Homo sapiens: one gene and its partners. The protein of the gene in region 1 interacts with the protein of each later gene in a pairwise test. Each region holds a gene or a part of one and is shown in the gene's direction. Other genes may lie near its edges.

Region 1 (8,803 bases):
GATACTAAACCCAGGCAGAGACACAACAAAAAAAAGGAAACTTCAGGCAAATATCCTTGATGAACATTGATGCAAAAATCCTCAACAAAATACTTATAAACCGAATCCAGCAGCACATCAAAAAGCTAATCCACCATGATCAAATAGGTTTCATCTCCAGGATGCAAGGTTGGCTCAACATACAAAAATCAATAAATGTGATTCATCATATAAACAGAACTAAAGAATAAAAAACATGATTATCTCAACAGATGTAGAAAAAGCTTTCCATAAAATTAAACATCCCACATCCCTTCATGTTAAAAACTCTCAATAAACTAGGTATTGAAGGAACATATCTCAAAATAATAAGAGCCATTTATGACAAACCCACAGCCAACATTATACTGAATGGGCAAAAGCTGGAAGCATTCCTCTTAAAAACTGGCACCAGACAAGTATGCCCTCTCTCACCACTCCTATTCAACATAGTATTGGAAGTCCTAGCCAGAGCAATTAGTCAAGAGAAAGAAATAAAGGGCCTCCAAATAGGAAAAGAGGAACTCAAACTATCTGTTTGCAGATGACATTATTCTATATCTAGAAAACCCCATTGTCTCAGCCCAAAAGCTCCTTCAGCTGATAAACAACTTCAGCAGTTTCAAGATACAAAATCAATGTACAAAAATCACTGGCATTCCTATACACCAACAACAGCCAAGCTGAGAGCCAAATCAGGAAGGCAATCCCATTCGCAACTGCCAAAAAAGAATAAAATATCCAAAAGTACAGCTAATCAGGGAGGTGAAAGATCTCTACAATGAGAATTACAAAACACTGCTCAAAGAAATAAAAAATACAAACAAATGGAAAAACATCTCATGCTCATGGATAGAAAGAATCAATATCATTAAAATGGTCATACTGCCCAAAGCAATTTACAGATTCAGTGCTATTTCTATCAAACTACCAGTGACATTCTTCAGAGAACTAGAAAGAACTATTTTAAAATTCATGTAGAACCACAAAAGAGCCTGTATACCCAAGGCAATCCTAAGCAAAAAGAACAAAGCTGGAGGCATCACATTACCTGACTTCAAACTATACTACAAGGCTACAGTAACCAAAACAGCACGGTATTGGTACAAAAACAGACACATAGACAAGTGGAGCAGAATAGAGAGCCCAGAAATAAGGCCACACACCTATGATCTTCAGCAAAGCTGACAAAAACAAGCAATGGGGAAAACACTCCCTATTCAATATATTGTGCTAGGATAACTGGCTAGCCATATGCAGAAGCTTGAAAATGGATCCCTTCCTTACATTATATACAAAAATCAGCTCAAGATGGATTAAAGACTTAAATGTAAAACCCAAAACTATAAAAACCTTGGAAGACAACCTAGGCAATGCCATCCTGCCATAGGAATGGGCAAGGTTTCATGACAAAGACACCAAAAACAATTGCAACAAAAGCAAAAATTGACAAGCAGGATCTAATTAAACTTAAGAGCTTCTGTACAGCAAAAGAGACTATCAACAGAGTAAACAACCTGCAGAATAGGAGAAAATATTTGCAAACTATGAATCTGACAAAGGTCTAATATCCACCATCTATAAGGAACTTAAATTTGCAAGAGAAAAGCAAGTATTTTATTTTGGGAAGTGAATCCAGGGAACAGGGGAGGGGCCCTTGAGAAGAGTAAAACAGGAAGGAGGGAGAGCTAATCCAAGAGTGTGCTGTTCAGCTGGCTATGCCTGTGGGTAACTGGGGCTTAGTCTTGGTGGGGATGCTTTAAGGAACCACATAGAAGACACTTCAGGATTGTCAACCAGAGAGAAAACAGGGGAACAGCCTGACCTCCATAGGCTAAAATTAACACTGGAGGGTTTTTATTTTCTCTGTTTTAGGAGTCTCACTAGAAAGCAGAGAATCCCTGGGATAACAAGCAAGACAGACGCATAGTACAGCTGGGATGAAGTGCTGGTAAGGGCACCTGTGTAGAGCCTGTTGCCTCAACAATGTCCAGGACAAAAAGGTGAGCCAAGGGGATGTGAGAGGAGTATGGCAGATGTTTAATGTAATGCCCAACTTTGACACTTATTCATTAGGTGTATCATTTGTTCACTCTTAGCACCTGTTTCTTCATCCTAAATGAAGCAGGAGGATCACTTACCCTGGCTGTTTCCCAGAATGATCATTAAGAGAGTTGTGAAAGCACTTTGAAGCAATTTAAAAGCTAACTCACTGCAAAACTGAAGGTGGTTGATGCTATTCTAGACCTGAATATGAAGCAATACCAGGAAAACAGAGAACTAAGAATAGATCACAGAGAGCATCTAGAAGGCCTCAGGAAGTCCCTGCACTGATGTGGCAGTTCTGTTGTTACATTAACTAAGAAAAAAATCAACACAGATGCCAAAGAAAGTAGAGTATATTTGGGAAAAAAAGAATTGCAATTCAGGTACACTGAATTAGGGCAACACTAAATAGTGTCCTTTAAGGCAAGTTCAGGTTTTTAATAGGAGATTTCTTGAAAAAGTTGTTTTGAGGGGCAATTCACTGGCTGGACAGAAATCCTAAATTGCAGAGCTGTTCTGAATTGTTAGTTAATTAGGGTACTCCCAGCTGAGAGATGTTGAAGTCCAGTGGATTCTGACTTAAGGTGTTATCCAAGTCTGTTGGAACCTTCTGTGGCTTAACATTTAGCAGGTATGAGTGCAGTCCTCTCTTGATCTTCCAATTCCACTTTAATGCCTAGGCCTAAATTACTTTATGTCCTTTCACAGCAACAATGGGCCAGGAAGGCATGACATGCACAAATGATGACAGGCACCACACTTAGCATCTTGGAAAATGAATATGTGAGTTTAACACCTCAAGGTTTTTAATAGCTGAAATATTAGGAGACTTTTTTGCTGGAAATAAATATTGATTGAACTGATTCAGTAAATGCCTAATATATGAGGACCGTAATTCCTTATCTCCCTGTCAGACCAATTTAAGATCTACATTTTAGCCATGTCTGTCCACCTCTCAGCTTTAGAGTTTAAATTCACTTTCTTCTGCAGTATTTCGACAACTGAAAGACTCCAGTTGGATGACTAATTTCAGCCCTATTTGATCTGAGGATGCAACCGGTAGCTGCTCTCACATCCTCAAGTTACATGACAGTTATACTTTTTACTTCCTCAGAACATTTGCCAACTTAATAAATGTTCAATGCCAACATTAAATTCTCCCCTGAGCCTTAGTGTAGGTACATGTGCATAGATATAATCAGGATTAACCATATTTCATATGCCGTTTCTTCTCCCAGTCACTTGAAGACATCGTGGAGGCACTTTGCAGAAGAGAACCAAAAGTGGTGTTGAAATGGTAACAGATCCCAAAGCCTAACAGTTGAGCTCTTGCAAGCAGTGGCCCTACAGGTTCCCCTAATATAGGGTCCTAATGGTTCATCCTACTTCCTTTCAGGTACCCCTTCCTGAAATGAAGAATATGTTGCAAGGGAAAGGTTTGTAACCTAAAACTGTTGATCTAGTCTTCAATAATGGCATACATATCATAGCCACTTTCTCTGTGACATAAATCTCAGAGAAATTGTTCTTTCCTTCCTCAGCCATTGATATTATTTAAAACCGTGATTCTATTTTTACCTTCAGCTTGAACAATCTCTGCATAACAGGTATGTTTGTATGCATACGGCATTTCTTCCTAAAACTTCAAAAATCTTCAAAAAATATGTAATTCTTCTATTTTCAAATTCCGTGAGAGTCTGCTCTCCTCATGTGTATGCTTTAGGAGCTCTGCTATTTCCCTAAACTAATATTACAGTGGTGTGATGTACCATTAACTACATGGCCATGGAGATTCAGAGGTGAAAGCAGGGATTGCCTGCATCTTTTAAGTCCCAGTTTGATTTTGATTTCATTTCATAATAGATCTTATTAATGATAAAAGTTGGCGGCCGGGCGCGGTGGCTCACACCTGTAATCCCAGCACTTTGGGAGGCCGAGGCGGGCGGATCACGAGGTTAGGAGATTGAGACCATCCTGGCTAAACCAGGAACCCCAGCAAAACCCTATCTCTACTAAAAATACAAAAAAATTAGCCAGGCGTGGTGGCGGGCGCCTTTGGCACAGCACACAAATCCCCTGATCATATAATCATAGGGCCCTGTCTAGCTTTATAGCCTTTGGACATTACTGACCACATCAACTTTAACCTCCTGCCACACATGCACACTCAGGGGAGAGGGCAAGGTACATTTGGGGAACTCCCCCTCCTCTTCCCCATCTCTTCCTTGACTTCCTTCTTCTCTAGTCAGAGTCATCCATAGTGAGCCTTCTGCTGCCCACTGGAAACTGGGTTGAAAGTCCCAGCTACTCGGGAGGCTGAGGCAGGAGAATGGCGTGAACCTGGGAGACAGAGCTTGCAGTTAGCCGAGATCGTGCCACTGCACTCCAGCCTGGGCGACAGAAAGAGACTCTGTCTCAAAAAAAAAAAAAAAAAAAAAAACGAAAAACAAAAACAAACAAAAAAGAAAACGTTGGCGTGGGTGACTTTGGGGATTCTAGGAAGAGCCCTGGCGCTTTCAACCCAGTTTCCAGTGGGCAGCAGAAGGCTCACTATGGATGACTCTGACTAGAGAAGAAGGAAGTCAAGGAAGAGATGGGGAAGAGGAGGGGGAGTTCCCCAAATGTACTTTGCCCTCTCCCCTGAGTGTGCATGTGTGGCAGGAGGTTAACGTTGATGTGGTGAGTAATGCCGAAAGGCTATAAAGCTAGACAGGGCCCTATGATTATATGATCAGGGGATTTGTGTGCTGTGCCAAGGCTTGGATGGCATCCTTTGTTCCAGACAGAAGGGTCCTGTTTATTGTCCTCCTAAGGTAATTTTTGTTCACTTTGTAACTTTTGCTCCCATGCACTCAGCAAACAGATATTGACCAGCTACTATGTGCTAGTAAGTAAGTGGTAGTTGTTTGGGATACAATAGTGAGTAAAGCATGACTCTTAGCATCTGTTGTATGTGCATGCATGCCATGCATGTGACACTGAGGGAGAGAGAGATTAAATGATATGACAGCATAGAGGCTGGGCACTGCCCAACTTTCCATGTGGAATTCAGAGAGGTCTTTATTTCTCTGAAGTTGAGTTTAAGCTTGGGTGTTCTAGCGACCAGAACTGTAATGGGAATTGTAGGTGCAGATGAACTTTGTGTAGGGTTATGGTTCTTTCTCACAGAACTATTGGCACCCACTGCAACCAGCTACACAATTTTCTTTACAACTCTGCAGCAAGCTAGACAGGTCACAGGCAGTCCAACCTCAGGAGGTTGCCTGTATCATGTTGATGGTGAAGCTGACACCATAGCATGGAAACCAGAGTCCACTGCTCCCACAGCTCAATGCTTAGCTGTTTCAATATGTTGTCTGAAACTGCATCTTCTAATTCCTGGACTTTTCAGATCTGTACTGACTCAGATCTGGGTGGGGCTTAGTTTGAAGGAGGGAGTCCTTGGTGATGATGTGATTTCCTTGGTCTGTCATAGGTAGCAAATCAAACGTACCTTGGACTTTACTCTCTGAGAAACTCATAGCTGAATTCAATGTTTATTCTTATGGACTACTTAGCATTTGACTAGACGGTATGAATTTCTAAGTAAGGTAAGGATTTCTTTCTAAGTTGTTTATACCTAGAACTTAAAAGTGGGCATGAATAAATCAAATATGGGTGGTTTTTAGTTGACACTTTATTTTCCCGTTAGGAAAAAATTAGTGACTGATCTTTTAAATTGATTTAGTGCATATACTATGTATTGTGCATATGCACCAAACAAATACTTAGTAAAAGGTTGTCTTGAAGGAACATGCTGATATATTTCAAATAAAAGAACTTAGCAAAAATGAGGAAAATACCTAACATTCTGGTAAGACAGTGAAAGAGGGATGAGCAATGTTTGTTTTGAAAATTATCTGCGAACTTTAAAAAAATCTCTAAGAGTGTATTCTTACTTGTAATTGTTCATCTAGTTACACTACAGAGTTTTATTAGCTGCTCCAAGATGCACTGCGTTCCATTCTGTGGTGGAAACAAAAGGACCGTAGTAGTGGTTATCTAGCAGAAGAATCGTGATCTTTGAATTCTAATACAAGAAACTTAGAAGTCTCCTAGATATTTCCACTGTCTCAGGGAAGAATCATTAAGTTTATGTCATTTTTTAATAACTAAAACAAGATTCAAAAAGTTAAGATTCAATTCTCATTGGGTTTCTATTGTTTGGGACTTTGGATAATAGAAAAAAATATGAACAGGTAATTTAGGTTTTTTTGTGTTACTGGTACCTGACAAAACAAACTTGAGCTTCCCATTTCCTAGAAACTTGGAGGAAATAATTTCTGTCCAGAATGGCAAATTGGTGTCATATCCCATTATAAGCATATTTTAATCAAAAGATGCAATAAAGTGTAGTGGTCAAGATCATAGTCTCTAGAGTCAAGTAATCCTTGGTGCATTTACCTGCTTCATCATTAACCAGTTGTATATTTTTCTCAGAGCCAGTTTCCTAATCTGTAAAATGGGGGTAGACTAGTATTGCTGTGAAGATTAAATGAAATTTATTAAAGTGCTTAGCAAAGTGCCTGGTATGTAGAAAGTGTTTAATAAATATTATTATTTCAGAATATAGATGTAAAAGACAAATGATTTCCTATATAATCATATTGAGTAGCCTGAAAGTTTGGTGGCTCTTAAATAAATCCATGAATGAAGGCTCTGCCTACTTTTGGCGTGTGGCCCACCAGCATGTTCTATCAGTTGGCCTGAGCTGGGAAAGAAACCAATTCCTGTGTTGAGTTTTCCTCCAGGTGCTTAAAATAGACCATAGCTTAATATTTTGATCATTAACCAGTGATTCTGGGTGGCTTCTCCTTGCTCTGGTCAGTGACCGGTGTAGGTCACGTAGTACAGCATTAAACAAGGTGTTTTTCCTCCTGAGGTTGTCATGTCAACTCTAAATTCCCAGAGACTTGCCTAGGAGTGGAGAGTTTGTTCTGAGTTACATAACCAGCATTCTCTTTGAGGCTTTGAATGTCTGTCTAACTGACTTCTGACTGCAGGCATGCAAACTTTTCCCCTGCCTAGTAGGAATGAATACCCCTTTTCCAAGTATCTGCATAGCAGCGACCCAGGGGCTATCCAAGAGCCAGTTGCTTCCTGACTTAATTTCTGGGAAGACCAATTGCCTATTCAAGAGAAATTCCTTCCTCCTTATTCTTCTGTCAGATGAGACTAGCTATTAGGTATTCCCTATCTAGGACTCTGACCTGACTCTCCTAGAAAAGAAAATGAGGATCCAAGTCCATTCCGTTTAACTGGGGCTATAAACATATGCCACCAGAAAAATCCTGCTATTCTGGCTTATTATAACTTTAGGTTCTCCTTTCTAACACAATACTATCTTTATAACATGTACACACCTTTCCTTGGTATTCAGTTGTAGTGTTTATATGTTCAAAATCCTTCTAATTTAGCCCCAACTAAAGTTTCCAGTATATATTTGCAGGCCCCTTTTACTGCACCATCTTCAGTAAAATGCATATTTCTCTTTCTTCAGCATAGGCTTCACCCTTAGAAGCTTGCTTTTCTCTGGATATTCATTTCCAGCAGGTCTCAGAGATAATGTACTGTATTGCATCTTTTTCTGTTGGAGACTAGAATGCAGTTAGCAGGTGCAGCTTGTTATAATAACTGCAGATTCAGATTTTTTCTCTCTGTAAATACTGTTAAATGTCCCCTCAGAGGCTCATTTTAAAATTGAGTAACGAATGGGGGCTTGTTTTTCCTTAGTCCTCGATCTTGGAATCTTAGAGTCTGTCATTGCACATTGCTGCTTACCATTTAGAGTTCAAACCACTAATTCCCAAGTGATAAGAGATTAAGATACAAACCTGAGATAGGCAAATGTACACTTGCAGCTTCCTTGCTTTAATACTTCTGTTTCAGGTGGGATGTCTTCTCCATGGCTATCCAGGTCTGTCCTAGACACCACCTTCGAGAAATGAGATCCTTTCTATCTAATTTAACCTAGATTAGAGACATCACCAAGAACACCTTCTGAAGGTGAAAACCTTTTACCTTTTCTTTTTGTCCCATACTCTATATTCCTTAACTGCAATCACTACAATATCCTGTCAATTACACAAAATTAATGTTACTATGACCAACTTTGATAATATTTCTATTTCCAAATTGACAAATTATATTCCTAATCTAATTACATTCATGCAAAGCTAGTAGCTCTGTAGTTATATCAACTTGGCAACAAGGAAAATAAACTTAGTTTAAAAAAAGACTCAAAAAGTTAAATCACTTTTGTAAAAGACCCAGAAAAAATATATATATATAATCATATAACTATTATAATACATAAATATATAAATGTTATATAAATATAATACATATTTATTATAGATAATAAGTGAAAAGGGTGAAATTGATGGAGTCAGAGCTTAGAAATCTTGTTAGTGTGGTGGGAGGAGAGAAAGGTGAGGAGTAGTCAGATTATGAAGAATTCCGTCAGAGTAGTATGTTCTGAGTTGCAAATTCAGGGGTGGAACAGAAAGTTCTGGGTGATAAGTGCAGGAATCTATGGAAATGCTACGCTGAGTGGAGTAAAAGTAACTAGTTTTGGAGTTCTTGACTTTTTCTTCCTAGAGTTTTAGATTTGCTGATAAGAGAGGAGGAAGGGACATAGAAAACTCAGATGACCCAAGTGGCAAGCATTTCTTAAATATTTCAGACCCATAAAGGTACA
Region 2 (7,970 bases), on another chromosome or scaffold:
CCACAAACTGGACCGTGGAGTCCTGCCAACAGAAACCAAATGAGATTAGCTGGACGTGGTGGCAGGAGGCTGAGGCAGGTGAATTTCTTGAACCCGGGAGGCAGAGATTGCAGTGAGCCAAGATGGTGCCACTGCATTCCACCCTGGGTGACAGAGCAAGACTGTCTCAAACAAACAAACAAATTAAGATGGCTCATTTGTAGACATTTTCTCATTTTTAAGGATTTTCTTCTCCCTCTAAACTTTTTGTAATCTTTGTTCCCACTTGGATTATCTGCTAGTGAGAGCTAATAGTCAACAAAACAATTGCACAAATAGCAAGTTAATATTAATGGAACCATTTAAACAGCTATCTCAATGGCTTGTCATCTGGGTGCCTGGACTCATGCTTCTGACTTTATGTTATAATCTCATGGTATAGTCCTATTTTGTCTGATAAAGCTGTTTTATTTACATGGAATAATTAAGTAAATCAAAACATCACAGCATTCATTAAAAACTTGGTGGTTGGGATGGCTGTCCACAGAAAACACTGGTGAAATCCAGGAGCTGCCACCACCTACACACTGTTGAAAAACACTGCAGTAGCCCTGTTTTGAAAAGAATTAGAACCTGGACTCATGTTTCTACCAAAGGAAATATGACACATTTCCCTTTCTTCTTCCCTTTTTATTTTTGTGACAGCCACACCTAAACCATGAGCACACTGATCTTCAATGTGTTCCACCAGAAATATTTTAGCCAGGACTGGTGGCCTCTGACAAGTAAACCTGCGCCCTTGTTCTATGCCCTGGCAAGCTCTGTTGCCCCGGCTTTATTCTGCTAACATTTTCTTCCCAGTTCTCCTCTCTCCATTCAGGCGACACACCCAACCATGTCTACCTGACTCTCCGTCAATTCCCGTTTCTCCCACTGAGCTATTGCTTCAGCATCATGACCAGAGCAGACACATTGACCCAGTTTGTGTCAGGCCCCAAGCCCTCTATATGTGAGTGAACTTCCTTCAGTCTCACAACAGCCCATGAGGAACGTGACAACTGATGCATTACAGATGAGGATGTGAGGCTCAGGCTGGCTATGTAACTTGCCCAAGGTCATATGACTAGTGAGTGACAGAACGACGACATGCTCCCAGGTCATCTGGCTCTAAAACCCATGCTCCTTACCACCACACTGTGCTACCTCTCAACAGGCAGCTGCATCCTGGAGTCATCACAACCAAACATAAATGAGACCAGCTTCCTAGAGTTCATCTCTGGGAATGAACCCTGGCACTATTTGTCTTCCTAGAATCTCACCACTGTCAGGCTGGTAGCCTGGGCTTAACTTCTCTGAGCCTCAGTTTTCTCTCTATCGTAGTAATAATTTAAATAATACTTACCAGGTCATGTTCTAAATGCCATGCACAAATTACTTCATTTAATTTCCATAACATCTACAAAATAAGTTATATAATTAAAGCCATTTTACAGATGAAAAATCTAGGCAGAAGGATGTTAAGTAACTAAGGTCACACAGCTGGTGAATGGAAGAGCAGAGTCTTGAACCCAGAAGCCATAGCTTCAAGGTCCATGCTCAGAACCAGTATTCCACACTGTCTTCACTACGTCAAATGGGAACAGTGATAATAACATCCACACAAGGGTGTTGTGAAGATTAAATGAGTTAATGCACGTAAAGGGCCAGGCCCCCAGTTAGAGGTAGATCCTCATGGTGATTAACAATGCAGCCTGACAGGCTCCATCATTCACTGGCTGTGTGAACTTGGGCAAGTTACTGACCCTTACTAGGCCTGTCTTCTTCTCTGGAAAATGAAGATGAAAACAGTAACTCTACCCTACATGGTTGTAAGAAATTAATAAGACAATACCTGTTAAGTGCTTAGCACAGGGCCTGGCATATAGTAAATTCTCAAGAGATTTTGAGGTCTGTTTTTAATTATTAATAAGTTCTCACTAAAGTTAGATTCCTTCTCAGACACCTTCCACTGATCAAAGAGTCTCATCAAAGCAAGTTCTTCCCTCCCTGGTCCCCTTTGGCTTTCTGAAATCATTAATTAAAAGAAAGGCCCTAGGAACCTAATGGCTTACCTGTTTTTTCTTTTAATATTCTACTCCGCAAAATTTGCAAAGTGTGTAATGTTTAACAGCAGCAAAATTAAAACATGTAAGTTCCATGCGGCAGTCCTCAAGGCCATGATAGCAACTGCTGCTGGTGGTGCCCGATGGGGAAGGGGCTGCCAAACTATGCATCTGACCAAGGACTAATATCCAGAATCTACAAGAACACAAACAACTCAACAAGAAAAAACAATCCCATTAAAAAGTGGGTAAAGGACATAAACAGACATTTTCCAAAGGAAGACATACAAGTGGCCAAGAAACATATGAAAAATGCTCAACATCACTAATCACCAGATAAATGCAAATTAAAACCACAATGAGATACTATCTTACACCAGTCAGAATGACCATTATTAAAAAGTCTAGGCAGGGCATGGTGGCTCATGCCTGTAATCTCAGCACCTTCAGAGGCCAAGGTGGGCAGATCACGAGATCAGGAGATCGAGACCATCCTGGCCAACATGGTGAAACCCTGTCTCTACTAAAAATACAAAAATTAGCTGGGCATGGTGTCACGCACCTGTAGTCCTAGCTACTCGGGAGGCTGAGGCAGAAGAATTGCTTGAACCTGGGAGGCAGAGGTTGCAGTGAGCTGAGATCATGCCACTGCACTCCAGCCTGGGCAACACAGCAAGACTCCATCTCCACAAAAAAAAAAAAAAAAAAAAGTCTAAAAACTCTAAAAACAGCAGATGTCGTCAAGGATGTGGAGAAAAGGGAATGCTTATACATTGTTGGTGGGAATGTAAATTAATACAACTTTTAGGGAAAACAGTATGGAGATTTCTCAAAGAACTGAAAAACCACGCAATCCAGCAACCTGGGGTATCATATTTATTGATTTGCATATGTTGAACCATCCTTGCATCCCTGCAATAAATCCCATCTGATCATAGTGTATTATCTTTTTGATGTGCCATTGGATTTGATTTACTAGTATTTTGTTGAGGATTTTTGCATCTACGTTCACAGGGATATTGGTCTGTGTTTTCATTTTCTGCTGTGTCCTTGTCTGGTTTTTAGTATCAGGGTGACCCTGGCCTCGGAGAATCAGTTAGGGAGAATTCCTTTCTCCTTGATTTTTTAATAGTTTCAGGATTATTGGTATTAGTTTTTCTTTGTATGTTTGGTAGAATTTGGCTGTGAATACATCTAGTCTTAAGCTTTCTTGGGAGTTTTTTATTATTGATTCAATCTCACTACTCATTATTGGTCTGTTTAGAAGTTCTATTTCTTCCTGGTTCAATCTTGGGGGATTTTGTGTTTCCAGGGATGTATCTATTTCCTCTAGTTTTTCTAGTTTGTGAGCATGCAGTTGTTCATAATAGTCCTTGATGATCTTTTGCATTTCTATGGTATCAGTTGTAATGTCTTTTTCATTTCTGATTGTGTTTATTTGGATCTTCTTTCTTCTTGGTTAATCTAGCTAGTGGTTTATCAATTTTGTCTATCTTTTCAAATAATCAGCTTTTACTTTCATTGATCCCAAGAACTAATATATGAACTTTTAGTTTCATTGATCCTTTGTAAATTTTTTGTCCCTGTTTCATTTAGTTCTGCTCTGATCTTTATTTTTTCTTTTCTGCTAACTTTGGATTTGGTTTGTTCCTTTTCTAATTCCTTGAGGTGCAATGTTAGGTTGTTAATTTGTGATCTTTCTACTTTTTTGATGTAGGCATTTAATGCTATAAACTTCCCTCTTAGCACTTCTTTTGCTGTAACCTGCAGGATTTAGTACAATGTGTTTTTGCATTCATTTCAAAGATGTTTTTAATTTGTCTTAATTTCTTCATTGACCCAGTAGTTGTTCAGGAGCATGCTGTTTAATTTCCATTATCTGTATAGTTTCCAAAGTTCCTCTTGGTATTGATTTCTAGTTTTATTCCACTGTGGTCTGAGAAGATACTTGATATAATTTCAATTTTTAAAAAGTTTGTTAAAACTTCTTTTGTGGCCTTACATGTGATCTATCTTGGAGAATGTTCCATGTGCTGACAAAAATAATGTATATTCTGTAGTTGTTGGGTAGAATGTTTTATAAGTCCATTTGGTCTAAAGTTCAATTTAAGTACAATGTTTCTTTGTTAATTTTCTGTCCCAATGATCTGTCTAGTGTTGTGAGTGGAGTGTTAAAAGTCCCCTACAGTTATTGTATTGCTGTCTACCTCTTTCTTTAGTGATATTTGTTTTGTTAATCTGGGTGCTTCAATGTTGGGTACATATATATTTAGGACTATTATATCGTCTTGCTGAATTTATCCCTACATCATTATACAATGACCTTATCTTTTTTCTTACTATTTTTAATTTAAAGTCATCTGTTTTATCAGATATAAGTATAGCTATGCCTGCTTGCTTTTGGTTTATAATTACATGGAATATCTTTTTCCACCCCTTTGTTTTCAGTCTATATGTCTTTATGGGTAAGGTTAGTTTCTTGTAAGCAGCATGGATCATGTTTTTTCATCCACTCTGCCAATCTGTATCTTTTAAGTGGAGCATTTAATCCATTTACATTCAAGGTTAATATGGATCTGTGAGACTTTGTTTCTGTTATATTGTTTATTGTTTTCAGGTTGTTTTATAGACTCTTTGTCTTTGCCTTTTTGACTTTGTGTTTTGATGAAACTCTGTCATGTTGCCATTTGATTCCTTTCTCTTCCTTTGTATGATTGTTTTATACAAACTATGAGTTTTATACTTCTGTATGTTTTTGTGATGGTGAATATCAACCTTTTGGCTGGGCATCGTGGCTCATGCCTTTAATCCCAGTGCTTTGGGATGCTAGGCAGGGGGATTAATTGATGCCAGGCAGGGGCATTAATTGATGGAAGGTGGTCAAGACCAACCGGGGCAAAATAGCAAGATCTTGTCTCTACAAAAAAATTAAAAATTAACCGGGCATGGTGGCACATGTCTGTATTTCTAGCTACTCAAAAGGCTGAGGCAGGAAGATTGCTTGAGCCCACGAGGTCAAGGCTGCAATGAACTGTGATTGCACTACTGTATTCCAGGTTGAGTGACAAAGCAAGACCCTCTATCAAAAATAATTAATTAAAAACACCATTCATTTCAGTGTTTAAGATCCTTTTGAGCATTTCCTGTAGTACCAGTCTAGTGGTGACAAATTCCCTCAGCATTTGCTTGTATGGGAAGGACTTTATTTCTCCTTTTATAAAGCTTATTCTGGCAGGATACAAAATTCTTGGCTGACAGACACACTGTTTTTTTTTTTCCCTTTAGCACTTTGAAAATGCCATCCCATTGTTTTCTGGCATGTAAGAATTCTGCTGAAAAGTCCTCAATTGGTCTGATGAGATTTGGGATTTCCTTTATAGGTGACTAGTCACTTTTGCTAATTTTAAAATTCTTTCTTTCACTTGACTTCAGACATTTTGAATATGCCATGGTGAGGTCCTTTTGCAATGTATTTTCCTGGGGATCACTGGGCCTCCTGTATCTGGATGTCTATTTCTTTAAATATGTTTTCTAAACTTTCTAATCTCTCTTCCCCCTCAGAAATACCAATAATTCATAAGTTCAGTTGCTTCTTGCAGTCCCAGACATCTCAAAGGCTTTATTCATTCTTTTTTATCCTTTTTTCCTCATTTTTGTCTGACTGGATTATTTCAAAAGTCCTGTCTTCGAGTTCTGAGATTCTTTCTTCTGCTTGGTGTAGTCTACTGTTGAAGTTTTTGAGCATATGGTGTATTTCCTTCAATGAATTTTTTAGTTCCAGAATTTCTGCTTGTTTTTATTTAAGATGTCTATCTCCTTGATAAATTTCTCATTTATATCCTGGATTAATTTTCTGATTTCTTTGTATTAGTTTTCAGATTTCTCTTGCACTTCATTGAGCTTCTTTAAAATCAATATTTTGAATTCTTTATCTAGCATTTTGAAGAATTCTCTTTGATTGGGATCTGCTGCTGCTGGACAGCTGTTGTGGTTCTTTGATGATTGTTACGGTTTGACTGTGTCCCCACCCAAATCTCAACTTGAATTGTAGCTCCCATAATTCCCACATGTTGTGAGAGGGGACGCCAGGGGAGGTAACTGAATCATGGGGGCTGGTCTTTCCCATGCTATTCTCGTGATAGTGAATAAGTCTCATGAGAACCGATGGGTTCATCAGGGTTTCTGCTTTTGCTTCCTCCTCATTTTCTCTTGCCACCACCATATAAGAAGTGTGTTTCACCTCCTGCCAGGATTCTGAGGCCTCCCTAGCCATGTGGAACTGTAAGTCCAATTAAACCTCTTTTTCTTCCCAGTCTCAGGTATGTCTTTATCAGCAGTGTGAAAATGGACTAATACAATGGTGTCATGTTTCTCTGCTTTTACATGTTTCCTGTATCCTTCCATTGATTTCTTTGCGTCTGGTGTAGCAGTTGCTTGTTCCAATTTTTTGAAATTGCTTTTATAAGGGAGAATTTTTTCCTGAGGATATATGCATGTTGTTAAGATGCTTTGACTTTGATTTTGGATGCCTGCAGTCGTGTGATCTTTCTATGACTTCTTCGGCATAGGGTCAGTGTTCTCTGTGATTTCCTCAGTGGGATAGAGTATGGTAATTAGCTGAGACTAAGTCCCCAGAAGTTTAGCTGGGACTTGGATGCCAACTGAGCAGCCTTTGGACCCCAGTGGTGGCAACAGTGGGGTAAGTGTGCCCTTTTTAGGCCCCACAGCAGCTTACGCTGCTCTGGTGGTTAGTGGGTCTTGGAGGGCTGATTCTTGGGCCTCCACATGGCTTGCTTAGAAGCTAGTAGTGGGAGTGGTGAGCCCAGTGTGTGGGCATGATCTCTAGCCCCTGAGCAGGTGGTGTCATGTGAGTGATGGCAGTAGCACTGTTGAAGCAGCCAACTGGGATCCAAGCAGTCCATGTTGGTGTTGCTGGAAGCTGTGATGGGTTGGGTGAGCTACTCCCCAGTCTCACAGCCACCTGTAGCAGGGTGGTGGGCACTGTTCTAAGTGTGCTTAGGAGAGCTTGGTCTTCCCTGTCCCTTTCCTACCAGGGTGGCAGCTGCAGCCACATTGCCTGATTGTTAATTCAGACTGGTTATGAATCAGCATTAAACTCTCAAAATGGTGCCAGCTGTGGGCTTGTGAACAGAGAAGGTGGGGCCCCTATCAGGTGAGCAGCATGGTCAAGAAGCTGTAGGGAGGGTGGTCTACTTGAGTCTCGGTCTCACAGCAACCCGTAGCAGGCACTGGGTATTGTCCTAGGTATGTGCGGGAGAGCATAGATTCCTTGTTTCTCCTTGACTGGGCAGCAGCTTCAGCCACATCAAGTTGAACTCAGCAAGAAGGTGGGGCACAGCCCAGCATTAAACTCTCAAAATGGCACCTTGGGCCTGTGACCAGGAGGGCAGGGGTCCCTCCAGGCAGGCAGCATGGGCAAGAAGCTGTAGGGAAGGCAGTCTGCTCACATTTCAGTCTCAACAGCAGCATGTTGCAGAGCAGTGGGTATTGACCTAGATGTGCATAGGACAGCCTGATTTCCCTGTTAATCCTTGGCTGGGTGGCAGCTACAGCTGCACCAGCCCAATCTCAGTTCCAGGGAGGGGTGCTGCCCAACATTAAACTCTCAAAATAGCACCTGGAGCCTGAGACCAGAGAGGGAGGAGCACCTCACAAGTAAGCAGCATTGGCAACAAGCTGTGGAACACACAGGATGGCCACATCTCGGTCTCACAGCAGCCCATGGCAGGGCAGGGGGTCTTGTCCTAGATATGTGTAGGATGGCCTGATTTCCCTATCCTTCCTTAGCCAAGAGGCAGCTACAGCCTCATCAGCCCAAACTCAGGCTGGGAGGGGAATGCAGCCCAGCATTAAACTCTCAAAATGCTA
Region 3 (7,970 bases), on another chromosome or scaffold:
ATCATTGACAGGCAAGTGGAATTTGAACATGAATCTCCATTATTTGTTTTTCTTTATTTTATCTTATTAACATAGATCCAACGTTTGTTAGAACTGAGCTCATTCATCAATTGCAACCATAGTTCAGCTGCAGATGTGAATTGTTTGAAAAATCAACTAAAATACTCTGTGAGAATCGACTGAGATTTATAATAAAGTACATCGTAGATTTTATTTATGAAATTGTGTGCTATACATCTTTTAGTAGTTTATAATAAATTGTGTACCTATGTGTATATATAATTCTGTCTATATAAGGACAAGTGTGTGCACGTGTAGTCACATATGTGCATATTGCCTCTCTCTCCTAAACACAGAGCAGTTGTTAAATAGTTAACAGCACACCACTGGGAGTATTACTATTACCTTGAAGTTTTGAGTTAAAAGAACTCACAATTTTAGTTTAATAATTCTAATTTGAGCAATTGAACAAACTGAACTGATAACCAGCAAATTTGTCACTGGTACCTTCCATTTTACAGTGTCATTGTCTTTATATAGTGGTCTGTGAGCTGCCCATGGAAGTCGATTATTTCAGGTAGTCACCACGTAAGTGACTGTCATTCAATGCAGTGATTTCATGAGTGCAATATTTCTTAGTGTAGACGAACTTTACAGTGATAATCACTAGGAGAATGTTCACAATTAGGTAAAACATTCATGAAAGAGTGCTCCCCCACTCTGTTTGCTTTTAGATTTAAATGATGGGGGTAGTATCTCGCTTCTGTTTCATGTCACGCTGGTATTGAAGAGAGCAGAAAAGAGATTATCTTTTGTTTGATACCTTAAGAATGATGCAGAACATATGCTTAATGTCCATGTTTTAAGAATAATCTGAAGCAGTGTAGCACAAAAATGGTCTATTATTTCAGGCCTAATATTTTTTAATATGTATTTCTATTTGTGAAATATTATTTAAGGACATTGCTTTAAAATTATTCAGTATTAGACTGTCTTCTCTGACTTAGTAGAGATCTTTTTAATTTCCTCCGCAGCACTGAACAATTGAAAATATGTATAATATTCCTAACTTTTTTTGCAAGACTTTATTTTTCTGATATGTTATTGTACAATATTTAATTCTAAATTTATTTCAATTTCTCCCCCTTCAGTTTAATGAGTGGTGTTAAGAATAATGTTGGAAGAGGGATCAATGTTGCCTTGGCAAATGGTAAGAACAATTATTTTAGCTTATGGATGTAATCATTGGGTATTTTTCTGTCCCAAAGTAAAATGCACTATCAGAGGATCAGGTTAGAAAGTACTGCTCTTGATGATAAAGCCCTCTGTCCCATCCCTGCCCTGCAAAAAATCTATGGGTGGAGACTTGGTGTCTAAGAATTTATAGCGTGTTTCTTGAAAGTATCCTAACTTGCTATGCAAGAGCTTCCATGAGATTGTCAGAAACCAAGCAGTCTAACATCACATTGATAAAATCTTGCTTCAAATTTTGGAATCCTAACATAATAGGAAGATAGGTTGACAGGATTAAAGGCGTATGAAATGACAAAGGATGGTGTAGGGGGAGGAACAAAGAATAAGAATGTATTGTAATTTTTCATTATCAGCCACATTCTTCTGATAGCTTAATTAGTATGAATAAGTTGATTGAATCCTGAACATCTCAAATTTTCCTTCAAAATCAAATCTGAAAACATAAAACCATAAAGTGAGGCCTAACTGCATATTGATCCTCTCTGTTCTGGTACAATAAGTATTCCATAAAGCTATGTAGGATGGTTATAAGATATATAGGATGGTTAGAAACCACTGTAGTTTCATAGTGTAGAAAAATATATTTTACTACTTTCACAGCAAGAGGTAAATTTTTGTTCTTCTGCTTTCTTCATTTCCTTAGGTAAAAGGTTCAACATCTGTCTATTTCATTAATAGCAAAAAATACATTTTATAGGGCAAGTTAATGTAAGTTTTATTGTAAAAACTGATTTAATGTAGAAAATGGCATCTGATTCAAGGAGATACTTCTTTTTTGTAAAAGGTTTACTTTTGAGTAATTTTAAAATAAGAGAATATGGAAACAACGATGAAATATATCTAACCGAATTGGAATGGTCTACAGTCAGTAATGAACTTCTATTTATCCTTCGGCTTAAAAGATTAATGAGAAAGTTCTATTAAGAAATTACCCTTTAAAAATATATTTCAGGTGCATATGATTCAGATTTTAAGTTCTCAAAGTAATTCTTTGAGATGAATTCACATCTCTCTAATGCTAATGAATTCACATCTTCTCTGCTAATGAATTCACATCAATCATTGGATGAGATTATTGGTCTTACAGTGTATGATATATTTCAGATGCATAATTTGATATGAATTTAATCTCTTTTAGGAAAAACAGGAGAAGTATTAGACACTAAATATTTTGACATGTGGGGAGGAGGTAAGCATAAATAACATGACTGTGTTCTTTTGCTGGCACTGACTTAATCACCTCAATACAATGTAGCCCATTAATGAGAGAATGATGATGCTATTTGCGTTAGTTCATTTTGTTTCCCTTACTTTCTGTTCACTAAATGTCCAGCTGTATTTAAGTTATCATTCATGTTTTATATACTTTCTTCTTCTTAGAAAAAAATTTTTGTGGTGTATAATTGAAGATAGTAATATCAAAATTGAGATTTTTTTAAAAAAAGTCATCTTGTTTTCTACAGGACAACCAATTCAAAAGTTTTGGGCTCCTTTAAGTGTGTCTAAAATTTAAAAAAAAAAAGTAATTTGAAGACCAGAATAACCAATGTAAGCATTCCTAAGTGATAGGAATTGATTTTTTTTTAAATGTGATTTTTTAGTCTCAAAAATAAATCATTAGGAGCATTAGGAGCATTAGAAAGACAAGATAAACTATCAGTTTTAGAACAGCAGTCCTATTATTCATCACAGTTCTACCCTCTGACTTGCAGCTAATTTTTTAGGTAGATGAATATTTGAGGGAAGAAATAGAATTTTCTTTCTTGTAAAGCAATCCACAGATATTTTCCCCTTCCATATTTGGAAGTCCCACAAGGAGTGGGAAGAAGTTACCAGCACGCAGAGGCAAGGGACTGGCACCCCAAAGAAGAACGCTGCCCGGAAGAATGGGTTTTTTTCCTCCAGTTTGAAGGGAGGCCAACACTGGTTTATCTTTTGATTCTTTAATTTGGGAGATTGATCAGTATGAGGATCTCCCCTGCACCTCCCCATTCCATTTATATATTCCCTAGAAGCCAACAGCTATTAGGCTTCCTGAAATTCATGTTAAGAGTTCTCAGATAATTTAGCTTTTCCAACATATCTTCAGCTTGTAATAAGATGGTATGTAGCCGGACGTGGTGGCTCACGCCTGTAATCCCAGCACTTCGGGAGGCCGAGGCAGGCAGATCACGACGTCAGGAGATGGAGACCATCCTGGCTAACACAGCGAAACCCCGTCTCTACTAAAAATACAAAAATTAGCCGGGCATGGTGGCATGCACCTTTAGTTCCAGCTACTCCTTGGGAGGCCGAAGCAGGAGAATCCCTTGAACCGGGGAGGCAGAAGTTGCGGTGAGCCGAGATCTTGCCACTGCACTCCAGCCTGGGCGACAGAGCCAGACTCCGTCTCAAAAAAACAAAAGATGCCGTGTATTATTTTGTTATTAAATAATGTTAGGACAACATTGCATAGCTGTCAAAGCTGTATAAACTTAAAATGGGACCATCAATTTTAGATTCTAAAGGCATAAATTGGTCCTGCCAAAATTTATTGATAGAAAGAGTCTTACAAAGCTGTTGTTGAAATCAGTCATGTGACCAGGAGCTCTGGTATTCCTTACTTCTCTTGTCACAGGTAGATTAATTACCGCTAGCAGCATTCTTCTAGTTAGGAAATTGTTGCAGTTTATTGCCACTTTTGCATTTAAATGGAAGTAGTTTGTTAGCTGCCTTGTTATATCTTTTTGAATTGAAAATGCTATTATTATGAAATATAATCAGTTATCGAAAATCTTTGGCATCTTTGCTGTGGAAAGAAACTGAGTACATTTGAAGTAACCCAGTTTTGGAGTAGAATTAGACTTCAGAGCTATAAGGAACCCAGACATTGTAAAGAGTTCAAGATGTCAAGTGGTTTTTAGAATCTGACCTATGTATCTGGCATCAACAGTTTATAGTCATTGAAGTGGTTTATTTTGAAGTCCTTGTGGATTTTGATTTGGTAGATCAAATGAGTAATGACTGTAATATTTGCTACAATTAGTTTGGCTTTTAGTGATCACCTAACATATTCCTTCTCCCAGTTTATAGCAAATGATATACCTAAAATAGCCTTTAAATCTGTGTGTATATGTATTTTTAGATTTTCTAAAAATTACAGATATCTTTGAGAATCGGAGAAAAGCTGTGTATCCTCTTTCTAGTAAAGTACCCATACAAACATTGTTATGCTTTTTTTCGTTTCGTTTTTGTTTTTTTGTTTTGTTTTTGAGACAGGGTCTTGCTGTGTCAACCAGGCTAGAGTGCAGTGGTGTGATCTCAGCTCACCGCAACCTCCACCTCCTGGCCTCAAAGCAGTTCTCCTGCCTCAACTTCCTGAGTAGCTAGGACTACAGGCATGTGCCACCAAGCTCGGCTAATTTTTAAATTTTTTTGTTGAGATGAGGTCTCACTATATTGCCCAGGCTGGTTTCAAGCTCCTGGGCTCAAGCCATCCCCCAGCCCTGACCTCCCAAGGTGCTGGGATTACAGATGTGAGTCACTGTGCTCAGCCCATACAATTTTACATACACTTAAGGAGTCCACACACCTCCCATGCCTCCTTAAGCTTATGCATGGACCCCAGAATAAGGTTTTCAGGATCCCAATTATTCAAATCTGAGAGATCTCTGAATTTCTTACTTCGTAAGTCATGCTTTACTTTGCTATGATTTTTTTCACTTAGCCCCAGGAATATCAATACGAAAGACACAGGATAAATCAGGAATGGGAAATTGTAAGTTGATAGTGGGATTATGTTAAGGGACAAATTTAACAGTTTTTAAACTCTTTATGAGATTTGTCTGTCTTTTGGATTACTTTACATTGGAAATTATTGCTTTACAGATACTTCATGTTTTATAATACTACTTTCAGAGATTATCGTGATGCTTATTCAGTCATTTTTTAAAACCCTAAACCCTTTCTTTTTCTTCAGATGTGGCACCATTTATTGAGTTTCTGAAGGCCATACAAGATGGAACAATAGTTTTAATGGGAACATACGATGATGGAGCAACCAAGTATGTAAACTTTACAGAACTTTTTGGAACTATAATTTGTAATTATAAAAGCAATACATTTTCATTAAAAAAAAATCTGTAACATAGAGCAAAGTAATCAAACTACCAGGTAAACACAACTAACAATTTTTGTTTTTACTTTGCCTCCTTCCTGGTTTTATATGTAAATGTTTATCACACATATATTGTCATGAAATTAGAATCACATCATATGTAACATTTTTTATACTTTTATGTTTTGTTTTTTAACATTCTGAAATTGTTTTTCCTAGCATTAATATTCTTCAATAGCATTTTTATGGTTCATCAGCAGTTATGGGCTCACCTTTAAAGTTTCCCTATTATTATGTCATTAGGGTAAATTTCAAGAAATGGAGTTAATTGTCAAAGATACAGGTGTGCTATATTTTAAATAATTTTAATATATAGTAGTTTTATAACTTTTTCTTAAAATAGTATATGTTGTAAAAATTTGGAAAATTATAGAAAAGCGCAAAGAGACCAAGTTCCAGTCCATCTCACTACCCAGTGTAAACATTGATGATATTTTAGTTTCTATTCCAGATGACTTAAGACACATTTTTTGGCATTAAATATTTAGAATGCTAGTATTTATAGCATATCTCTTCACTTACGTGGTGAATATTTCCCCTTATTATTAAATATTCTTTATAAAAAATTGTTTATGCCTGCCTAGTCTGGTTTTTAAAATGTCATGATTTATAACCTGTTTAATGGGTTGCCTATTGCTGGACCCAGACTAGTTCCAATTTGCATACTTAGCACAATAGACTATCTTAGAAATGTTTGAACAGTCCATGTCTATGTCTTTAAGATAGACTTCTTTTTTTTAAAGTGGAAATGATTAATTAAAGGATGTGCATGTTTTTAAAAATGGATTTTAAAAATTTTTTTACCAATTTTATATTTTTCTCAGAAGTTCCATGGCACCAATTGTTAATTTTTTTAAGTTTCAATTTTAAGAGTTTGAAAAGGTATCTTATTTTAATATGCCTTTATTATTGAGATTGGATTTTTTTCACAAGTGGTTTTTTTTTCTTTTGCCTTTTTATGTAAATTGTCTTTTGACCATTCGAGTTGGCCTATCTTGACTTGTAAGACCCCTTCACGTTTTAAGGATATTAACCATTTCTAATGTAAAAAGAAATGTATTTATTGTACATTATTTGCTTTTAATTTTGTTAGTGTAGGGTGCTTTTTGAATTTTAGAATTTTAGACTAATGCCTATATAGTCTATGTATTTTTCTATCACTCTCCTTGTATACTTGAGAAGTATTTTTCCACCTCCAGGTTAGATATTTAGTAGATTTTCTCTTCCAGTGATTTCACTGTTGTCATGTATTTTTAAAAACCCATTTGTAATTTCCCCATGACACACAATGCCTATGTTCTTATGTAGATTTGGCTTTATCTCTGGAATTTCTGTTCTGTTCCATTCACTTGACCTGTTTATCTCTGTTCCAAAAAGACACTATTTCAATTATTTTAAAATTGTTTTATAAAAGTAATTGTACTTCATGCCTCTCTGGTTGAGATTAAATCCCCTTTAATGTTCTTCTTTCTAGAAAAAAATAATTTTTTCTCTGACTTTTCTTCAGATGACTTATCAAGGATAAAAAACATCCTTTATAGATTTTAATTGACAGAGCTTTAATACTACAAGATTTATAGATTTTATAGATTTTAATTGACAGAGCCTTAATACTACAAGATTTATACAGAAATTTGTATTTTTATGTATTGATTTTTATAAATGTATTATTTTATAGCTACATTATCACAGATTTACATGAAAACAGTGATACTTTATAAATGGTTGTAAGCTGAAGTAATTTCATTGACATTGTGCGTTTTATCTGGTTCAACTAAGAATATATTAAATCCATAAATTGAAGGTTAACATAAAACTCGCCTATTCAAGCATTTTCATCTACCTAAATAGAATGAAACAGGATGTAATTAGGCTCTCATCAAAAAACAGGTAACTTGCTATTTGCTTTTGCTGAGAGAATAGGCTATTACGTGTAAAATTTGAAGTTTTAACATTAAAAAGAAAAGGCCCCACTTTTCTGACTTGACAAACATGACCTCCGTTTTTCACCAGATTATTTTGTTATACCTGATGGGAATCAAAATTGCTCCCCTTAACCTGCTAATATGCTAATAATAAATTATAGCCACAACTAAGAACTAGGGGAGGAATGATGTTTACTCTTCAACTGCTATTTTTTGGTGCCCATTAAATGCACCAAAAGCAGCTTTGGAAGAGAGTTCAACCTCTAGGGCAAAAGGAAAAATCTAAACTTTAATTTCTTTACGTTTGGTCACTTGGTCAATATATGATTCATCTGTGAATTTAAATGAATTGAGTTGTATTAGTTTGGGGCACACGAATTTATATTTCAAATATTTCCTTTTCCTAAATACCAGTAAAAGAAATTGTAAGCATCATATCTTTTATACTGAAATGGACAACATCCTTAAGAAAGGCAATCTACATCTAATATATATATAACCCTTTTATCTTGGCAGGTGTCTAATTGTGGCACATTTGCAGTGATTTACCAGTTGTGTTATATACCCTCTCTTATATATGAATAGAAATTCTGCTTACTGCTGCTGATGTATTATGGCTTTTCCTTATTTAAGGC
Region 4 (7,818 bases), on another chromosome or scaffold:
TAAAAATACTGTCAATGCCCTTTCTTGCAACCTGCTATACACATCTAGATGTAGAAATAAGAAAACTGGACAGGTTTCCATCTTTAAGTGGCTTGCTTAGCTTCTGATAAACAATTTAAGGCACAAGCACTTAAGCTGTAACTTGCCCGGTGCTAGAAGGTTCCACCGCCATCCTCTGAGAACATGCGCTGTACGGATGGGAAGACTGTGACAGACAAGACAATGGCTAAAGAGGGAACAGCAGATTGTTAGGTGCTTGTGGTGCTTAACAGAGAGCAGAGGGTAAATTGGGGGAGCAATCAGGGAAGACTTCAAGGAGGAAGGGACGCCAGGGCTGGGATTTGAAGGATGAAGACAGTGGCTGGGAAGAGAAAGATAAGAACTGTGAGGAATGAAGGAAAAGATGGAGAGGCAGACTGAGGAGATGACCCAGAGACAGCCCCTAGGGAGGCCCTGACAGAGAGACCCCGTTCCGTGAACTGCCCTGTCCTCGCCTGGACAGATGGAGTACTTCGGCACTATCGGCATCGGAACTCCTGCCCAGGATTTCACCGTCGTCTTTGACACCGGCTCCTCCAACCTGTGGGTGCCCTCAGTCTACTGCTCCAGTCTTGCCTGCAGTAAGTGCCCAGACCGCCCTACCCCACTCTCACTCCCCAGCACCAGCCGACCCTGGGGAACCCTGGACACCCACGGGCTTCAAACAGTTCCCACCTCAAGCCTGCTGGAGCCACTCAACAGGCATTTATTGAGCACCTACTACGTGCCAAGCACTGGGCTCAGGTGCTCCAGGGGGTAAAGGGATGAGTGATATGATCCCTGCGGTCAAAGACTACACAGTCTGAGGGCAGAGAGAAGCTCTCCTCAATAACCACAGGCTGGGAGAGGAAGTATGGGGGGCCCAAAGCAAGACAGGGCCAAAGGGCTGTAGAATAGCCCACCAGGAAAGAGTCCAGTGTGAGAAAATGGCTTCAAAGCCTGGCTAGGACAGGCTAGAGGTCAGTGCTGAGCTCATTTAAAAAAAAAAAAAGAATCATTGGTTTGCTAATGAAAGAGAGTTTGTCTTTGGAAGTCATGAACAATGTGTGTTGCAGGTTCCTTCCTCTTCTAGTGTTTTCACTGGAGTTTTAATGAAGATGAGGTGCCTGTGGCATCATCCACATCATAACGGGAGCACTGGCTGGGGGCTAGAGGGTGAAAGCGCTCGTCACTGGGTAGCCACGGGCCTGCTCCGCTCTATGTTGGTCTGGGGAGGTCTCCAGGAGGCCCTTGGGGTTGGCTGGGGAAACTGCCACCAGTGAATGGTCCCAGTAGTTCAACGAGACAGGACAGAACCTGGGGTCTCTTGGGCTCCAAGGGTCTAGGGCGAAAGGTCGCTGCTCACCTCCAGAGCCCGTCCCAGGGCCAGGGCACCCCATCCCAGGAAGACATCCAGCCCATGACCTTCACCCAGCTCTCAGAGAATAACACTCACCGCTTGTCCTTGCAGCCAACCACAACCGCTTCAACCCTGAGGATTCTTCCACCTACCAGTCCACCAGCGAGACAGTCTCCATCACCTACGGCACCGGCAGCATGACAGGCATCCTCGGATACGACACTGTCCAGGTGGGCACCTGCAGGCTGCCGCTGCATCCCCCCATCAGGCACCCCCAAAATAAGCTTATTCCAGCAAGATGAGTCTTGGTGATCACAGAAGTAACCTGATTGGGGGTGCGGGGTGGGGGAGAAGCAGCAGAGATGTCACAGACATTGCTAGCTCGGGTGGCAGTGAGTAAAAGGGTGGGGTGCCAGGAGCCATAACCCAGACTCAGCTCCACCCAAGCAGAATGTTATGGAGTGTGGGGAGAGTCAGTAAAGGCTCACTTCTCTACTAGCACCTCCTCCTCTTCCTTCTTCTCCCGACATGCAGCACCCCAAGTCACGAAATCTCCACAAGCCCTCCCTGCCACTTTCGGGGCATGGCAGGGGTCAAAGGCCTGGGGTCTGGGGTCTGCTTTGCGTTTGTTCATCAGAAACACAAACACACAGTGACCATCTGTTCTCCAGCAAAATCTCACCCTGAGTCATAGACTGTAGCCATCTGGAGATCAGCTGCCATGGTTACCTCCAGCAGAGGAACCAGCATTCCAGCAGACAGTCCCTCTGCCCTCCTCCCGGGCTGATACCCTGGAAGCCAAGTCCTGCATGAGATGAACCAGGGTGGCTCTGGGCCTGAGGCTGGCATCCAGAGCTCAGTGAACATGACCCGATGGTGAACATCATCTCGGTTTCCCCACCCAGGTTGGAGGCATCTCTGACACCAATCAGATCTTCGGCCTGAGCGAGACGGAACCTGGCTCCTTCCTGTATTATGCTCCCTTCGATGGCATCCTGGGGCTGGCCTACCCCAGCATTTCCTCCTCCGGGGCCACACCCGTCTTTGACAACATCTGGAACCAGGGCCTGGTTTCTCAGGACCTCTTCTCTGTCTACCTCAGCGCGTAAGTTGAGTGGAGAGGGGCCTCCTCCCACCTCCCCCTCCAGAGGTCACAGTGTTCCTGCCCAGCAGGAGCTGTCCAAGGCTGGGTGCGATGGAGAGGGTCTTGGGAAGCAAGGGATTTGAAAGTCAATGTCTGAGGCTGGAGAAGTGTGTCTTTGGAGAGTAATAGTGCCAAGTCTGTCTCTGACGGGCCATGTGCACTCCATCTTATTTTACCAGCATCTTTGTCCCCTTGATGTGCACAACTCAAATGTCATCAGCCATTTCCCCCTCAGTACCACTTCCCTCATCCTTGGCCCGCAAAGATGCCATTTAAAGTGAATACACTTGGCCAGGTGTGGTGGCTCATGCCTGTAATCCCAGCACTTTGGGAGTCTGAGGCAGCAGGATCACCTGAAGTCAGGAATTCAAGACTGGGTTTCATGGTGATAGCCAGGATGGTCTCGATCACCTGACTGCCTCAGCCTCCCAAAGTGCTGGGATTACAGGCGTGAGCCACCGTGCCCGGCCCTGGATGACTAATTTCTTCTTGCTGTCTACATTTGCTTCCTCATCTAACCTGAAACTGCAGAAATTTAGAACATGAATATTGCAATAACAAGGACTCCTGCAATTTACCACAGGAAGGCTCTTTGTCATGTATTCTTCTTGGCCAGTTAATGTTCAAGGTGGCTCTGAAACATCATCTGCCTTTATGAGCACTTAAATATTTCATGTGGGGCCATTGCATCTCCCCAGCCAGATCCGAGTTTCTCAATCTGGGCACTATTAACATTTCAGACCAACATAAGAGCTTGCCGCCAGGGACTGTCCCGTGCATTGTAGGATGTTTGGCAGCATCCCCAGCCTCTACCCATGAGATGCCGGCAGCATCCCCTACCCCCACCCAATCATGACAATCCAAAATGTCTCCAGACATTCCCCTGGGGGCAAAACTGCTCCCAGCTAAGAACCAGTGACCTCCACCCTCAAGTCCTTAAGAGCGGACACTGTCATGCATTCACTTCCCTGGGGTCCCCATGGCAACCAGAGTGGGTACCACCATGGAAACCACAGACTCAACCTAAAAGGCCTGTGTTCTTCCAAACGTAGTTCCACCACTCCCCCGCTGTATGACCTTGGGCAGGTGGCCTCACCTCCCTCAGGCTCAGTGTCCTCATGGTAAGTGGAAATAACAGTGACAGTGCCCACTGCATAGGCACTGGCCTAAGAGGAAAAGAAACCACATTAGTCACACCGCAGGACAGCCCTAGAAAGTGCCCAATCAAGGGTAGCCCTGAGGAGGCAACAGCAGATGGTCACACAAATGGACGAACAAAAAAATTCATGTCTTCTCCCCTCACTTTCCACAGCGATGACCAGAGTGGCAGCGTGGTGATCTTTGGTGGCATTGACTCTTCTTACTACACTGGAAGTCTGAACTGGGTGCCTGTTACCGTCGAGGGTTACTGGCAGATCACCGTGGACAGGTGAGACTGCCATGAACGGGCAGCATCCAGGCCTGGGCCCCAGATCCCATTTCCTTATGGATTCATAGCCAATCAGCTTTCCAGAATCCCCCCAGGAACAGCTGGCACAGGGGAACACACTCCAGGGGGAAGGTGGAAGTTGGCCAAGCCAGAGACCCCTAGAAAGACACCTCCCTGCAGGAGGAGGGAAGAGCTGTCTAGGAAGCCAAGACTCTGCAAGGGTGAGATAGCCACTGTCCTCCTAGTCACGGAGGCAGGACCATCCACCAGCATCCCTGGGGAGAGCTGGGGGACCCACCTGTCCACGCATCTGACAATTTAAGGGGCCGGTGAACCAGCACACGCTCCTGCCACTCGAGGAAACATGTCACTTTCCGTCTAGAAGTGGGGCAAAATGGCTAAGAAATTGTGTGAAGTCACTTCATTCCACCCTCCCCTTCAGGGCCTCCCCGGTCTCCCTTGCAGCTTCATTTCCACGCTCTTCTTCCCCAGCTAGCCTGCTAGCGTGCTCAGTGGTGTGGGTTTTCCCAAGAATGAACAATTTCCCAGGACAGAGACTTTCAGTACTAAAACTGGGACCAGCCCAGGCAAACCAGGACACATGGATCACCTCATGTCTGCCCAGCCATGCTAGAATTTCACCAGTTCCTCCAACACCTGCCCCAGCCCTCTGGTCTCTGTACCTCCCCGCATACCATCCCCTGATGATGTCCTCCTTCTCTCTTCACCTGCCTGGCATTCCAGGGTGTCTGTTCCCCTGGCTGCTCCCCTCCACCACCTCTCACCCTGGACCCTGTTTTTGTTCCCTGCCTCATGCCTGACTGATCATCTTGCCCTTCTGCCAACATAACTTATCTTGCCAGCTAGGCAGGGAGCTCCCTGCAGCCTGGAACTGTGAGGCTGTCTTGTTTCACTTGGCATTTCCCATGCCTGGCAGAGAGTAGGCACTTGGGAAATATTTGTTGGGCAAATGAATGCGGGACGAATGAGTGCGTGAACGAGAGGAACAGAAATTTCACGCATTGGCCAATGGATGGGTGGGGAAGAAATGTCTGGGCTCACCTCCTAGTTCCTCCTTGGAGAGAAGTACCCCTGAGAGCTCAGGGAGCTTAACTTGCTTCTTGCCCTCAGCATCACCATGAACGGAGAGGCCATCGCCTGCGCTGAGGGCTGCCAGGCCATTGTTGACACCGGCACCTCTCTGCTGACCGGCCCAACCAGCCCCATTGCCAACATCCAGAGCGACATCGGAGCCAGCGAGAACTCAGATGGCGACGTGAGTCCAGCCCCGACTGCTCTGTTCTACACTCAAGTAGTGGGTGTGCCAGGCAGAAGGGACAGAAACCCTTCTAACTTTTCTCACCCTCACTCTTTCCAGATGGTGGTCAGCTGCTCAGCCATCAGCAGCCTGCCCGACATCGTCTTCACCATCAATGGAGTCCAGTACCCCGTGCCACCCAGTGCCTACATCCTGCAGGTGAGGAGGCTCTGGACCATCCACTAGAGGGGTTCACACAGAATGTGGACACAGAGTTCCCCTCTGCAGACGGAAAGTACACTTCCACGAGCTGAAGCCAGCAGGCAGAGGCAGACGAACATCTGCCCTAGACAGCCTCCAGAGAAAAAGAATATATTAAAAACAAATGCAGGAATAAGAACTCGGATACAGCCCCCTAAGGGAACAAGTGAAGCAAAGGTTAATGGAGTGAAAAGAGGATTCTATTTGGACCCCTGGGTCCAAGTCCTGGGTCTGAATTACTAGCCCATTGATTCTGAGCAAGCTACAGCTCATCTCACCCTCAGTTTTCTCATCCAAAAAGTAGAGATGGCAGCTTTCCCCACCCTCAGAGTGCGGTTAGGTCAACCAAGTGAGACTGATCACATCAGAGCTACCAAGGGTTGGGCAAATGGAAATCCTAATTTCCATAGGCTGGGGCTTCTGACACTTCTACCATCTCTACCAAGTAGCAAATCTTTAGCTATACGAGCCACAAGAAAACTCTTTCCCTTCTGTTATCATAACGTCAGGTGGAAAACTAATTTTGCCAGTGGACTCATGTTACTCAACAAGAAGCACTGATGCCTGGGCTCCCCCACTGATTCTGATTACATTAGGAGAGGGCAAGGCCTGAGCAATGGGATGGGGCTGCGGGGGTTCAAAGCTCCCCAGGTGATGTGCAGACAAGGTCGCAGCCCAGTGACTTAGTGAGGCAAGAGGGCTAATAGCTCATCTGGTTTGCCTCTGACCGGATCAGAATAATAATGAGAAAAGGCTATGGCGGCAGGGTTTTCAAACTCCTTCCTAGCAGCTGAATTCTCCCTAAGCCCCTTAGCACCAATGCTGATGTCAGGGTTCGTGTGCCTGCCAGAAACACCAGATAATGTCCAGTAATGCGTAGAAACCAGTCGTTCAGTGGACGGCTTCTACAGGCCGACTCCAGGCCAAGAACAGCCGAGTCCCTGGACACTGAGCCAGGAAGCTCCTCCTTGCACGTGCCTTACAGCTGGACCAGGGCGCCCTGGATGTTTATCACCCAGCGCCTATCACGGCTGAATCGGTGTCCCAGCTCCACTTTTATTCTCCTTTTCTCCAGAGCGAGGGGAGCTGCATCAGTGGCTTCCAGGGCATGAACCTCCCCACCGAATCTGGAGAGCTTTGGATCCTGGGTGATGTCTTCATCCGCCAGTACTTTACCGTCTTCGACAGGGCAAACAACCAGGTCGGCCTGGCCCCCGTGGCTTAAGCCTAAGTCTCTTCAGCCACCTCCCAGGAAGATCTGGCCTCTGTCCTGTGCCCACTTTAGATGTATCTAATTCTCCTGACTGTTCTTCCCAGGGGAGTGTGGAGGTCTTGGCCCTGTTCCCTGTCCTACCAATAACGTAGAATAAAAACATAACCCACTGAAACAGGTTTTGTGGAGCTGCTTCTCTTTGCTGGTCTTTTTCCTTCACATTACTGGGGTTAGAACGCCAGGGCAGGGATGAAAATGACCACATCCATTTGGATGGCACCCAACATAGTGACCCCAGCAGCTGACACTTCATGATGGAGCCAAGAAGACAGAGAGGCTTCGGGGGTTGTGCTGGAAGCATCATAAAAAGACCTGGGGGTCAAAATACTGGGCTAATTGTCTTCTCATAGAAGGGACACAGAGCTGAGATCGTGCCATTGTACTCCAGCCTGGGCGACACAGAGAGACTCCAGCTCAGAAAGAAAAAAATAGGTCACTGAAGCTCTTAGTTGAGGGAGTCAACCTCCTACTTCTCCCAAAGCCAATAAGAGATCATGAGAAGGCTGGGCACAGTGGCTCACGCCTGTAATCCCAGCACTTTGGGAGGCTGAGGCGGACAGGTCACCTGAGGTCAGGAGTTTGAGACCAGCCTGGCCAACATGGTGAAACCCTGTCTAATAAATTTACAAAAATGAGCTGGGTGTGGTGGTGCGCACCTATAATCCCAGCTACTCAGGAGGCTGAGCCAAGAGATCGCTTGAACCTGGAAGGCGGAGGTTGCAGTGAGCTGAGATCGCACCACTGCACTCCAGCCTGGGCGACAGAGCGAGACTCCATCTCAAAAAAAAACAAAAAAAGAAAAGAGATCATGAGGAAAGGAAAGCAATCAGGAGAGTCACGAGAGGTAGACACTAATGGTGATGTCCCTAAGTAGATAGGACAGGGCAGAGTTGTCTGCAAGACGTGGACAGGAGAAGTGGAAGAAGCTGACACCCCACAGTCTTCCAGGATGCCCTTGTGATTCACTGGCTACCAAGACCAAGACTAACAGTTAATCTCCCCAAGGTCCTAGGCAGAAAACACTGAACCCATCTCTTTCCCCATCTGTAACCAAAGAGAAAGGTCTTCCACTTCC

What was found.
Region 2: the proteins of HHLA2 (region 1) and TMEM140 interact in binary tests that used the Homo sapiens proteins (3 or more experiments, as listed by UniProt).
Region 3: the proteins of HHLA2 (region 1) and FAM3C interact in binary tests that used the Homo sapiens proteins (3 or more experiments, as listed by UniProt).
Region 4: the proteins of HHLA2 (region 1) and PGA4 interact in binary tests that used the Homo sapiens proteins (3 or more experiments, as listed by UniProt).

Annotation. Positions count from the first base shown.
Region 1 is NC_000003.12:108,290,946-108,299,748, forward strand, and holds the start of HHLA2 (HERV-H LTR-associating protein 2 isoform a precursor), read left to right. Parts: upstream 1-5,602; 5' UTR 5,603-5,654; exon of another isoform or gene 5,655-8,109; intron 8,110-8,803. UniProt on the Homo sapiens protein: Through interaction with TMIGD2, costimulates T-cells in the context of TCR-mediated activation. Enhances T-cell proliferation and cytokine production via an AKT-dependent signaling cascade.
Region 2 is NC_000007.14:135,150,686-135,158,655, forward strand, and holds part of TMEM140 (transmembrane protein 140), read left to right. Parts: intron 1-7,970.
Region 3 is NC_000007.14:121,357,370-121,365,339, reverse strand, and holds part of FAM3C (protein FAM3C precursor), read left to right. Parts: intron 1-1,151; coding exon 1,152-1,210; intron 1,211-2,392; coding exon 2,393-2,443; intron 2,444-5,212; coding exon 5,213-5,297; intron 5,298-7,970. UniProt on the Homo sapiens protein: May be involved in retinal laminar formation. Promotes epithelial to mesenchymal transition.
Region 4 is NC_000011.10:61,224,837-61,232,654, forward strand, and holds the end of PGA4 (pepsin A-4 preproprotein), read left to right. Parts: intron 1-502; coding exon 503-620; intron 621-1,489; coding exon 1,490-1,608; intron 1,609-2,283; coding exon 2,284-2,483; intron 2,484-3,834; coding exon 3,835-3,951; intron 3,952-5,082; coding exon 5,083-5,227; intron 5,228-5,329; coding exon 5,330-5,428; intron 5,429-6,545; coding exon 6,546-6,695; 3' UTR 6,696-6,858; downstream 6,859-7,818. UniProt on the Homo sapiens protein: Shows particularly broad specificity; although bonds involving phenylalanine and leucine are preferred, many others are also cleaved to some extent.